Linked DNA regions of Homo sapiens: regions 1 and 3 are each reported to be linked to region 2. The links are microRNA targets in miRTarBase. Many come from high-throughput screens and were not tested one by one. Region 2 holds a microRNA gene; each other region holds the end of a gene's coding sequence.
The links. The annotated mature microRNA hsa-miR-6766-5p reads CGGGUGGGAGCAGAUCUUAUUGAG and lies in region 2 at 1,261-1,284, opposite strand. An mRNA with a match to its seed (bases 2 to 7 or 8) in the 3' UTR can be bound and repressed. Matches are read on the target gene's strand: a 7mer-m8 pairs with bases 2 to 8, a 7mer-A1 pairs with bases 2 to 7 and ends in A, and an 8mer does both.

Region 1 (4,000 bases), not on the chromosome of region 2:
ACTCCACTAAATATCCACTGGGGGTTGTAAGTATCAGCGAATGAAGAAGCATGAGATGCTTTAAGAGGAAAGAGGGAGGGAGGCATCACCCACACAACCTGCAAGTCACACCTGTGTCAAATTCCTGGGGCAGATGGAAAATACACAGCATCAGACGCTGGGAGGCGAGTCCAGGAGCAGCCAGGCCGCCCAGCCCAAGCATTGCCCAACTGTAAACGGGCGAGGTGCCCTCCCACTGATTCGAGGCGCAGCCATCACACAAGAGACAGGGCTTTGTGACACCACCCCGCACCCAACCAAGTCATTCTCATGACTGTGCTCAAAGTGTGGACACAGCTGGAGGATGGGGGCCAACAGGGTAAAAGAGTTTTAAGTTTATGGTTAAATTTTCCAGTTGTACGATGCCAATTTTCATAAAATGTATAATTTGCTGTGTTTCAGTGGAAAAAGAAAAAACCAGAGCCAAAGGTCTCTACGCAGTGTGGTGCTGCGCATCAGGCAAACAGCGAAGAATCAAAGTGGGTTCTCCCCGCTCACACCTCCCTCTCTTCCCGGAGACGCCTCCCCTCGGCCCAGCAGGCCCTTTTCTGCCACTCCCATCCGGAGTCATCCCCACGGGCGGTGGCCCCGACCATGGCCCGGGAATCTGAGCAGGTGCGTGGATGTGGGTGGTGTCTTCTGCAGGAACCCCTCCACATCCCTGCAAACACCCCAGGTGCTCAGGAAAACCGAACCTCAGAGGAACCATACCAAGAACTGGGAATGCAGAAATGGAGGGGACGCGGGCCCCCCTCAGTGAGTGAACCGCCCAGTGGGTTCTGACATTCGTCTGAACATCCTATAAACAAACGCATCCCGGGGAGGTGCTCCAGCAAAGGCAGACACAAAGGGCCATGCCCAGAATACGGAAAACAAGCCCTCAGCAGATTCACTGACACCCTGTTCACAGCAGCATTCAATTCACATTCGCAGGAAGGCAGAAGCAACTCAGTGTCCACCAACTGATGAACAGATAAACAAACCATGCCTCTTCCACACAATGGGACATTATTCCGCCTCAGAAAGGAAGTTAGTTCTGACACCTGCCACGACACCGATGAACCTAGAGGACATTGCATGAGGTGAAGTACTTCAGTCCCAAAAGGACCAATACTGTGTGACTCCATTTCTGAGGGAGCTCGGGTAGTAGAAATCAGAGAGTGGAAGCTGCTGCCTTCTACCAATGGGGAGCGAGTGCTGAATGGGGACAGAGTTTCAGTTTGGGAAGATGAGAAAGCTCTGGAGATGATGGTGGTGGTGGCACGACAATACGAATGTGCTTAATGCCACACAACAGTGCACTTAACAATGGTTAAGATGGTACGTTTAAAATTAAACATTTTTATCATAATAAAAAACTTGGAGGGGCCAGGTGTGATGGCTCATGCCTGTAATCCCAGCACTTTGGGAGGGTGATGCAGGAGGGTCACTTGAGCCCAGGAGTTTGAGAGCAGCCTGGGCAACACAGTGAGACCTCATCTCTGCTGAAAATAAAAAACTAGCTGGGCAGGCTGGCGCTCACCTGTAACCCCAGCTACTTGGGAGTCTGAGATGGGAAGATCACTTGAGCCCAGGAGGTTGAAGCTGCAGTGAGCTGTGATTGCACCAGTGTATTCCAGCCCGGATGACAGAGCGAGACCCTGTCTCCAAAAACAAAACAAAACAAAAATAAAAGAAAGCGAAGCTTCAGAAAGGAAGGCAGGAGGTGTCTAACACAGGGGACACCTGAGGCTAGCAGGCACTGGGGGCCAAGACCCACACAAGCCCACCTGAGCCTGGGAAACACAGGGACACCACACACAGAGGACACCAGGGTATGTCCCAACTGAGCGTGGCCAGCAACCAGGGACTGGGCAGTGGTGACAAATACCACACACGAGGAAGACAGGTCAAGCAGGGTGCCCGACACCACGAAATGATTGCAACCATCTCTCCAACTACAGCTTAGAAGCAGAAATAGCAAAGGAGTTTCAGCCAGATGTTTCCAGAGCCTCCTCTGACACTTTTATCAAGACAGGGCCCATCAAACCTGAGGGTTCAAGGTCAGTCGTGTCCTTGAGGGTGAAGGCACTGGAGCTAAACCAACCAGAAAGCCACAGAGACAGTCACACGGAGCCTCTTCTTGGTGACACTGGGTACTGTCATCCAGCACGGTCTAGAGATAAACGCCAAACCACTCCACTCCTGCCAACTGTAAACCTCAACAGCCATAGTTTACTTTCTATTTAATCTATCTATCTACCTATCTTCTATCTGTCTATTTAGAAACAGAGTCTCACTTTGCTGCCCAGGCTGGAGTGCAGTGGCACGATCATAGGTCACTGCAGCCTTGAACTCCTGGGCTCCAGCGATCCTCCTGCCTCAGCCTCCCGAGTAGCTGGGATTACAGGTGTGCACCATCATGTCCGGCTGATTTTCTTATTTTTTGTAGACACAGGGTCTCGCTATGTGGTCCAAACTGATCTTGAACTCCTGGGCTCAAGTGATCCTCCCTCCTCAGCCTCCTGAGTAGCTGGGTTTACAGATGTGCACCACCACGTCCTTTTTATTTTTTGTAGAGATGAGGTCCTTGCTATGTTGCCCAAGCTGGTCTTGAACTCCTGGGCTCAAGTGATCTTCCCCCCTCAGCCTCCCAAAGTGCCAGGATTGCAGGCATGAGCCACCGTGCCCAGCCTTAATAGCCATAATGTATTAATATTTATTTATTTATTTTGAGATGGAATCTCACTCTGTCACCCAGGCTAGAGTGCAATGTCGCGATCTCAGCTCACTGCAGCCTCTGCCTCCTGGGTTCAAGCAATCTTTCCATCTCAGAACTCCTGAGTAGCTGGGACTACAGGTGCACACCACCACACCCGACTCATTTTTTTTTTTTTTTTTTTTTTTTTTTTTTTTTTTTTAGTAGAGACAGGGTTTCACCATGTTGGCCAGGTCTCAAATTCCTGACCTCAAGCGATCCTTCTGTCTGGGCCTCCCAAAGTTCTGGGATTACCTGCCTGAGTCACCCGCCCGGCCTTAACAGCCATAATTTAAACTAGACAGTATGGGAACAGCTGGAGTTAGAAATCCTAGAAATCCTGCTTCTGTAACTGACCGGTTTACCTCTGACTTGACTTCAAACAGGAAGCCCTGAAGATTGACCTTTTCAAGTACAACACTTAAACAAAGAACTTTCCCTCTGGAAGGATTTGTCGGCTACCCTTCCAAAAACAGACAGGTGCGGCCTGACTTCAAGTGCAGGCCCCGCCCTCCTCCGGTGAGTGGCCCTAGCCCTGGAGGCAGCTCCATCAGCCTCAGCATCCCCTCCCGGCGCCCGCACGCTCAGAAAAACCACAGGAGCGGGCGAGCGGGCGAGCGGGCGGGCGGGTGGGCGGGCGGAGGGGAGAGGGGATATTTTACTCCAGCATTCCCTTCCACATTTCGTATTAAATACCTGAAATATATTAATCTTAAAAAACAATATCGATACAGTACTCAATGGATAGAGGCAGTGGAGTGAACAAGAAGCCCAGATTGCAAAATCGTAGGTCATAAAAAAACTGGAGTGCGCGTGCGTCAGGTTCCAGGCACGCGAGAAAAAGCAACGCGAAAGCTTTCAGTCTCGGAGGAGGTTTTCGGGCTTGGGGTAGCCGAAGAGAACAAAGTCGGCCTCGTAGAGTTTATACAGCTGCTGCCTCCAGGCCAGGGGGATCTTGGCGAACCAGTCCTCCTCCCAGCTGCTGGCGGTCCTGTTCCGGTAGCTCGGGGGGAAGCGGAGCTGCCGGTCCACCTGGAGTAGCTGCAGCAGCTGCGCGGCGTCCTCGTCCAGAGTCTCCAGCTTCCCCACGAAGTCGTAGTCGATCTGGCACGGGTGGCAGAGGCGGTACACCTGCCGCCAGTGCTCGTTGAAGGGCGCCAGCTTCTCCGTGTGCGGGTCCAGCAGGTACTGGATGAAGTTGGCGAAGGACACCTTGAGGCCAGC
Region 2 (4,000 bases):
CCAGGCACCAAGTAGCCCCAGCCATGACGCTCTGAGTAGTGCAGAGGGAAGCCATCCCAGGTAAGTGCCATGAGTTTAGGTGTGACCCGCATCTGCAGGCTGAGGAGGCTGGGGCCCGGGGTCCATGCAGGGTCGTCTAGCCGGGGGCAGAGCTTCCGGTACCATCTACGTCCCAGCAGGAAGACAGCAGTGTCACGATGGTAAGGGCAGTTGTTGGGGGGAAGGTTCTCTCTCTCACAATGTCCCCACCCACCCTCCAAAGCCCTGGGGCTTTCTGGTGACCCCAGCCTACAGCCGCCATCCCCTCCTCTGGGATGCTTTAGCCAGGACCCCCATGGAATCCTCTAGAAGAATATTTCAAAAGCAAAGACACTAAGTCAGTCCCACTGGACTAGTCAGAAGCCAGGACACAAAAGCATACCCTGACCCAGGGCAGGGCTCCTTCCCAAGCTCCATTTCATCCAGGGTAACTGACCAGAGGAGGGAGCAGATCTGCCCTCCCCACCCCTCTAGAGAAACACCAGTCCTTCTGGGTGCTCTCTTGCAGGCTGTTCACCAGAGTTGAGCCCAGGGTGAGACTAGCAAGGCACTCAGGACACTTGCTCTCAGGGTCTTGCAGGTGCAAAGCTGGCACCCTGCTGCTCACCCTGGCTGCCCTTTTTCTCATCTCTGCCACCCTATGAGGCTCAAAGGAAGGGGCACCTTCTCAAGGAAGCCTTCTTGATTTATTTCCCGAGGCAGAGTCAGAACTCTACCTATGGACACTAGCTGCACTGGCTGGTCTACGTGCCTGGCTCCTCCTAGGAAAAAGAACTACTGGAAAGGAGGAGCTATGCTCCAGTGTGTACACCCGGTGGCTGCCACGGGCCATTGCACAGCAGGTGCTCACAACACTGTGCTGAATGAGTCCAGTGAGCCGGTCCAGAGTGAGCAAATGAGAATAGGACTGGAAGACAGTGTGACTGAATGGCAGCAGGTCAATAAGTATACATGTGCATGATGCCTCTGTGCCAGAACCCAGACCAGGGCTGTCCTGAGAATGGAGCAAGGGTAGACTCTAGATACACTGCTGGGGGTGGGCAGGGCTCACCCAGGGTGTCCAGGAAGGTGCTGGGGCCGCTTGGGCAGGAGCTCTGTGGTCCCCTTCAGCTTCTGCAAGCAGGCGCGGGCCATGACATCTTGTTGAAACTCCTCCTCCTCACTGCAGGGGCCGAGGTCTGTGAGGGTGGGGGAAGACAATCAGGAGCAGGAGAAGGAACTCTCAATAAGATCTGCTCCCACCCGCTCATCTCCAGAAGGCTGGAGCAATCCTTTCGAAGGACCCCCTCAATCACAGGACCTTCCCAGAGACAACCCCTACCCTACCCTACCTCCCACCCATGCTCCCCACCTTCCTGATCCATGGGATCACCAGGGGCCCCAGCCCCCTCGATGGGCAACTTGCTGGCTGTGGCTGGTTCCTTCTTCACCTTCTTAGCTTTCTTCTGCTTAAATTCTTGCAGGTCCCACTCCAGGTCCCAGAGCCAGGGGTCTTCTTTGTACCTACAGAGCCAGTCCACTAGGGCAGGGCTAAGGCTAAGCCGAAGGCTAGGCCGCCCACCTGCCAGTCCCCTGCCTAGATCCTGCCCACCCAAGGCCTGGCTACCTCTCTCCTGAGAGCAGCTGGCAGGCATCATTGGCCAGATCCATCAACGACTTCTTCATCTCCCGCTGGAGCTCCTCATAAGTGCCCTGTGCCTCTGCCAGGTAACGCTCCCAGTTCTGGTTGACAGGCAGGTAGGAGACACCCATCTCCAGCATGCCGGCCAGAGTCACTGGGTGGGGACACCTTGGAGGCAAACACCAGGAGCTGCCATAAATGACCACAGGAGGCAAGACTGGCCCAATCCCTGAGCTGGTTTAGCAAGCCTCAACCCAGCCACTGACATGGCACAGCTCAAAAGTCAGACGGCATTAAATCCCAGCTCTACTGTTACTCATCCCTGGGTAAGCAACCCCATCTCTCGGAGCCTCAGTTCTTTCATCTATAAAATGGGAACAATATCATCCCATCCTCAGGGGTAATGTGGGAAATATAGATGGCAAAAGTGAAAATGGCTGCCACACGTGGAGTAATGACTCTGTGCCAGGCACTGTGCTAATAATCCCATACATGAAAAACATCATGCCTGAACCTCACAACTTGGGTGGTAAAATACAGCTGACATTTAAACAACACATGTCTGGATCGTGCAAGTTCACTTACACATTTATTTTCTTCAGCCTTAGCCACCCGAGACAGCAAGCCCAACCCCCGCCCTCAGCCTACTCAACGTGAAGGATAGATATCTTTATGATGATCCACTTCCACCTAATGAATAGTAAACATATTTTCTCCTCATGATTTTCTTAATACATTTTCTTTTATCTAGCTTACTTTAAGAATACAGTATATAATACGTATAACATAAAAAATATGTATTATGTTATCAGTAAAGCTTCTAGCCAACAGCAAGCTATTAGTAGTTAAGCTCTGAGGGAGTCAAAAGTTACACCCAAATTTTCCTCCCTTCTTTTTTCTTTCCATATCTTTGGTACAAATATACCTGAATTTTCAGCATACAAGGGTCACTTCATAAGACAGACTCATTAATAAACATAACCACGCTGTATGTGAAGCCCTTGGCTAAGGATCTAGTTAGAGAAGGTGCACAGTAAACCAGGACCGTGCACATGACACACAAGCACAACTCCATGGCCCTCCCCTTCAGGGCCTCTGTCAAATCCAGAGTCCAGGGCCCAGATGGACACCACTGAACAGAAGGGCTCCATTCTTTCAGCCTAGAAAAGCTAAGGTCCCCAACCTGAGATAGAACCAGCGCCACCTGATTACAGTGGGCCCGGGTACCAGGAACACACTGACCCCCAGAGATTCCCACATGGGCTCCCCCTCACCTCTCCAAGAAGAGCGGTAGCTGCTGCTGGAAAACCTCATGGGTGGCCCACACGTCCTGGGCACAGTACTGCATCAGGTCCTGGCACAAGGTGACAGGAAGGCGCAAGGTGGGCAGCCATCCCATTACCACCACCAGCTCTCAGGGTCAGGCCTGGCAGCTGCATCTCCCCAAGTGCAGCTAGGGGTGTGCCACAGCCCATGTCCCCAGAGCCCCCTCCAGCACCATACCTGGAAGTTCTCACGAATGTCCTTCATGGTGCCCTTCACAAACAGTTCTCGAGGCTCCTTCTCTAAGGGAGGCCCCCCTACATAAAGTCTGTGCACCTCTGCCAGACTGTTGACACTGCTGATGTCCAGCCAGTCCCAGGATGAGATCTGGGGAACCAGAGCAAGGGACATGGCAGATCAGCCTGGCCTCGGGCCAGACGGGCTGGTGAGAGGGGGTCCCAAGCACTATGCTCCTGCCCACCGGCAGTGTGCTCTCACCGCTGGGCCTCTTCTGGCTTTCCTCTGGGACTTCTGGCCTTGCTTTGTGGGGGGCTGGACCTTGTGTTTGCCCTGCTTGGCTGCTATCCACAGACTGCGCTGGAAGCTGCTTAGCCCTGAGATGGCCATGTGCATGCTCATGGTGTCCAGGAAACGCATGCGGGAACCCTGAGGAGGAGGAGGAGAAAAGGGAAGGGAAGGAGGGAGGCTGCAACTGTGGGGCCAGCCCACCACTGCTTGGTGGTGTGGACCTCCAGCCCCACCTCAGCTCCTCAAACAGCCTCCCCTCCCAGCACACAGCCTTCAACACCAAATACAGAATCCTCATGCTTGTTCATGCTTGCCCCATCACCTGTAAGGGGCCTGCCTTCCCAAATCCTAGCCACCCTTTAAGATGCAGGCCTGGCTCAATCCCAATGTGCAAGTCCTTCTCAGCTTCCAACAATAGCTCTGAGCAACGTAGATACAGAGTGGCCAAAATAAAGCCTTCAGGGCTATCTGGTCTGGCCCCAACCCTGCCACTCAAAAGCTCTGTGGCCCTGAGCATGTCAACAAGGCTGTCTGAGCCTCAGCACCCTC
Region 3 (4,000 bases), not on the chromosome of region 2:
CAGCCACGTCCTCCCGAGGCCATTGCCGAGGACAGGCACTGGGCATGCAGCCCCACGGCCTCCCCGACCCAGGGCGACAGGCTCAGGCCAAGCTGCCCGTGGTGGGAGGGCGTGCTTCCATCCCGGGCTGGCCCCCATGGCCCTCAGCTTCCTCCCTTCTGCCCCTGCCGCAGGCCGGACGGGGCCTTCGGCATGTCGGCCCCGACCTGGTGCTGTCAGACTCCCGCATCCTCTCCCCCAAGCCCTTCCCGTTCTGCCCTGCCCTGCCAAATGTGAAACCCTGCTGTCTCCCCCACCCTCCCCAAAGGTGTCTCTGAGCCGCCTCTTGGGGCCACCAAGGACAGGGCCATGTTCTGTCCCCCCAGAGCTGGTCTTGGGATGGCCGTGTGACAGGCATGCTCCACCCCTCCAGCTTCGTCCTGGGGCAGGGCTCCCTCCAAGCCTGTCTCCCCACTCCCCGGCCAGAGGTCAGCAACCACAGAAGGCCCCCCAGACCACGCATGGCAGACCAGGCTGCAGTGGCAGCCCTGAGGTGCCCCCCGCCGAGTCCCAGGGCCCTGCAGGGGCCTCGACAGGAGCCGGGCCTATCTCTAAAGCAGAGGGAATGGCTGGGCATGAACTTCGACATTCCAAAACCCCAAGCCAGGAAAAAGGGCAGGGCCTGGTCCTAGGGATGCTTACTGGCAGCAAGAGCAGTGCCCAGTCAGGGTGGGAGGTAGCACCAGGCTCTGTGACCCTCACCCAAGTGGGGGGGTGGTCAGTGGAAGCTGGGGAGGCTTCACTCAGCTCAACCCTGCAGACCCCCCATATGAGAACCCCCCTCCTCCCACCAGCTGGGGGAGATGACATCACTGCTCTCTCCATGGGGAGGGGGCTCACAGGGCACCAAGTTCGGGATCCTAGGACTGGCAGGACCTGCTGGAGCCTGAGATGGGCCCCAGGGGCCTGAGGTTGCCTCCTCCTGTCCAGACCCAGCCTTGGCACCTCCCAAGACTGCCAAGGGCCCTACCATGGCCCCACAGCCCCCAGGGCTGGCAGTTCCATCTAGGAGGGTGCCTCTAGGCCCCACTCTCAGGCTAGGATGGAGAGGCAGATCTGGGCCTGGTGAGGTGACCTGCTTCTGGAGGGGCAGGGCCGCACCCGAGAGCAGGGACAGGTGCCCGAACACAGGGTCTCCAGGACGTAGCGCCCCCCCGCATACTTGAATGTATGTGCGTATTTATTGCTCACGTCTGTGCCATGTTGTCAATGGGTCCTTTCCAACCCAAGAGGTACATTTGTTTTTCTGTTTTTCCTGAAAAATAAAGTCGGCCAAGTGAGTGTGGTCCGTATGGGCTTAGTCCCGGGTGGGGGCCTAACCCGGTAAGAGGCTGCACTGTGCAAAGTGTCCACAGATACCCACTGTCTGGGCCCTCTGAGACCTCAGAGAGATGGAGTTCCCACTGCATTTAACCACGGGGGAGCTGGGGCACAGAGGGGTGAAGTGGCTGCCTGCTGTCACCACTGATTCCTGCACCCCTACCTCCTCACGCTCCCAGCCCCTAGGGAAACAGAGCATGCTCTGAGCTGACACTCACGTGGCCGGGACCAGCCCCCAGAAGCAGCAGCCCCCAGGTCAGCCCCACGACCCCCTGAGGACCCAGCCTGCTGCCGCCCACCCAGCACCCGGGGGAGGGAGGTCCTTTCCTGGAGTCTGATCCGGCTGGGCTCAGGGTCTGGACACTGAGCCACAGTGGAGGAGCCGACGGCAGATCTGCAGTCTTGGGGCTTGTCTGGGCGCTGCTTGTGGTGGGTGGCACCCCCACGGGGCCCCCGTCAGGGGACACACAGGTGCGCCGGGCAGTCCTGCTGCCCCTCGCCACAGCCCACCTGGCCATGTTGGCAGCCACAGCCTCTGTGCTGGTTGACTCCGTTGCCTCCTCCACCCCAGAAGGGGCCTTGGGAACCAGAATCAACGTGTACTCCAGGTCCAGGGTCCCAGCCAGCTTGCGTGTGGTGGTACACGCACACAGGGTCCAAGTAACCGTGCAGGGCCCAGGACCGCGCACAGCCAGGGAAGCGCAGCAGTGCCGCCCACGCTACTGGCTGGGACAGCCTCTGAAGGTGCGGCCGAGGAACCTGCTTGGAGAGACGCTGTGACGAGGGATGCCCAGGCCAGCAACCGTGCCCGGGAGGCAGGGATGTCCTGGGGCGGGGGGGTGTAGAGTGGCAGGAGATTAGGATGGCAAAGCCCCTTGCAGAAACCTGGCTGTGGGATTGGGGCTGCGGGGAGGGAAGGGCGGAGGGAGACAGGGTCCAGGGGGCCTCAGGCAGGAGCTGGCGGGATGCTTCTGGCACGCGGGGGGTAGCCATAGGTCTTCTCTAGGAACGTGCCAGCCTTGGGAAGGATTTCCCTCCAGGGCCAGCCTGGGCCCAGAGGTGCTGGCATCAGACAGAAAAGACATGGTAACGTCCACATCCCAACTACCAGCCGCCATCTCCCCATCCGTAAGAGGAGGGGTTGGCCCAAGCGGCTCTCCTTGCTCTAATTCTGCACTTCCAGGTCCAGACGGCTCCCTGGACCTCCCCACATGCTGGTCCAGGCCCTCTGGAGGCAGTGAGGCAGCCAAGCCAAGCCCAGCCCCACTGCACTTCCAAGCCCCCAAGAGACCCCCAGCCAGTGCCTCCATGGAGGAGCAGGCCTGGGTGCCGGTGGCTCAGCCGAGAAGAGGACAGTTTCCACAAATGGCACAGAAGGCTCTGGGTGGGAATAATAGAGGGTTGTTGGCTGAAAGAAGGACAGGGGGTAATCGAGGCAAAGCCCACGCCACAAGCACACTGGGAACGATGCCGCCGCGCCCCGGCCTCCCACGGGCCGGATGTGAGCTGGCAGTCCTGGCCGTGTCCCGCTGGGAGGGGCCGCACTGGGTCCCTGTCGTGCTCAGTCCTGCCTCCACCTCCCACCTCGCCCCATTCTCTTCCCTGCCGGAGTGTGGCGGGTGATGAATGCTGAAGGTTACGCTGCCCAGAACGCTTCTGCAAATAAACAGGCTGCTGTGTTTGCTCGCTTTCATAAACACGGGAACATCCTGCGCACAGACAAGGCTGGGAGACAAACCCCACACACCTCGGAGGGCCCTGGGGACGTCCAGAGCGCTGTCCACCGAGGGAAGGAGGCCCAGGTGGCTCCCCCGGGAGGGGTCTGGAGCTCCTAACACACGGCCACGCCATAGCTGCTCGTCCTGCCTGGGCCAGCAGGCAGCCTGGTTTGCTCACTGTTTCGCCGACGGCCGGCGGCCGAGGACCAGGGCTCAGGTCTGCACTGGCTCACGGAAGGGAGGCCGCCAGAGCTGGCCAGGGGGGCGGCAAGGGCCTTGCAGAGGAAGGCTGAGGCTCACAGGGGTGGTGACCTGCTCAAAGTCACGCAGCGACAGCCAGGAAGGGCTCTGACGCCACATCCAGCCCCCTTTCCACGCGACTGTGGCCTCTGTGGGCAAGAGCTGGGTGACTCTGTGTAGAAGGAACTGTGGTGAGGCGAGAGGTCCTGCGGCTCCTATGTCCCACCCAGCAGCACCAGGGATTCAGAGCAATCGTTCTAACTCCAGAAAAAGAAAGGCCACGAGGGCCACAGGCCCCAGCATCTGGAAGTAATGTCTGTTTATTGATAGAAAACAGGCCACGTCCAGAGAGGCCCAGGGCCAAAACCTCCTTCTGGAAGGCCGAAGTCCCACAGTGCCGGGGAGCGCAGGAGTCAGCTCGGCTCCGTCTTGCCAGGGCTGGGGGGACCCTCATCCTCACCCGCTTCCGGAGCTGCAGTGGATGTGGGGGCCCCTGCAGCCTCCAGAACCAGTTCCAGGGCCCCCTCGCCCGCCACACGGTGCACCTGCTCGCCTCTGGCCGTCAGGATCTCTTCGATATTTCTGGGGGGCAGGGAGGCAACATGGCTCTTCAGGGCCCCCCAGCCGCCCTGCACTTCAGTCCCCTCAGGGCGCCCCATGGCCAGGCCAGAGCTGCAAGCACC

Region 1: the mRNA of CHST12 is a reported target of hsa-miR-6766-5p. Seed matches in the 3' UTR shown: 7mer-m8 at 3,404-3,410 and 7mer-A1 at 666-672.
Region 3: miRTarBase lists DNLZ as a target of hsa-miR-6766-5p. Seed matches in the 3' UTR shown: 8mer at 2,741-2,748, 7mer-A1 at 1,790-1,796 and 7mer-m8 at 1,345-1,351.

What each region holds. Positions count from the first base shown.
Region 1 is chr7:2,433,519-2,437,518 of GRCh38, reverse strand. It overlaps CHST12 (carbohydrate sulfotransferase 12), which reads right to left. Exons shown (of 2, transcript NM_018641.5): 2 at 1-4,000. The coding sequence ends at 3,635. Among named protein-coding and RNA genes, the nearest start is that of CHST12, 32 kb to the right of the region's middle. RefSeq lists an enhancer at 3,600-4,000.
Region 2 is chr15:89,325,522-89,329,521 of GRCh38, forward strand. MIR6766 (microRNA 6766) reads right to left here and starts at 1,289; the gene lies at 1,218-1,289. POLG (DNA polymerase gamma, catalytic subunit) reads right to left here. Exons shown (of 23, transcript NM_002693.3): 4 at 3,422-3,589; 5 at 3,164-3,310; 6 at 2,935-3,014; 7 at 1,646-1,828; 8 at 1,391-1,542; 9 at 1,091-1,217; 10 at 1-165.
Region 3 is chr9:136,358,282-136,362,281 of GRCh38, forward strand. DNLZ (DNL-type zinc finger) reads right to left here. Exons shown (of 3, transcript NM_001080849.3): 3 at 1,202-3,899. The coding sequence ends at 3,731. GPSM1 (G protein signaling modulator 1) reads left to right here. Exons shown (of 14, transcript NM_001145638.3): 14 at 1-1,320. Among named protein-coding and RNA genes, the nearest start is that of DNLZ, 3.5 kb to the right of the region's middle.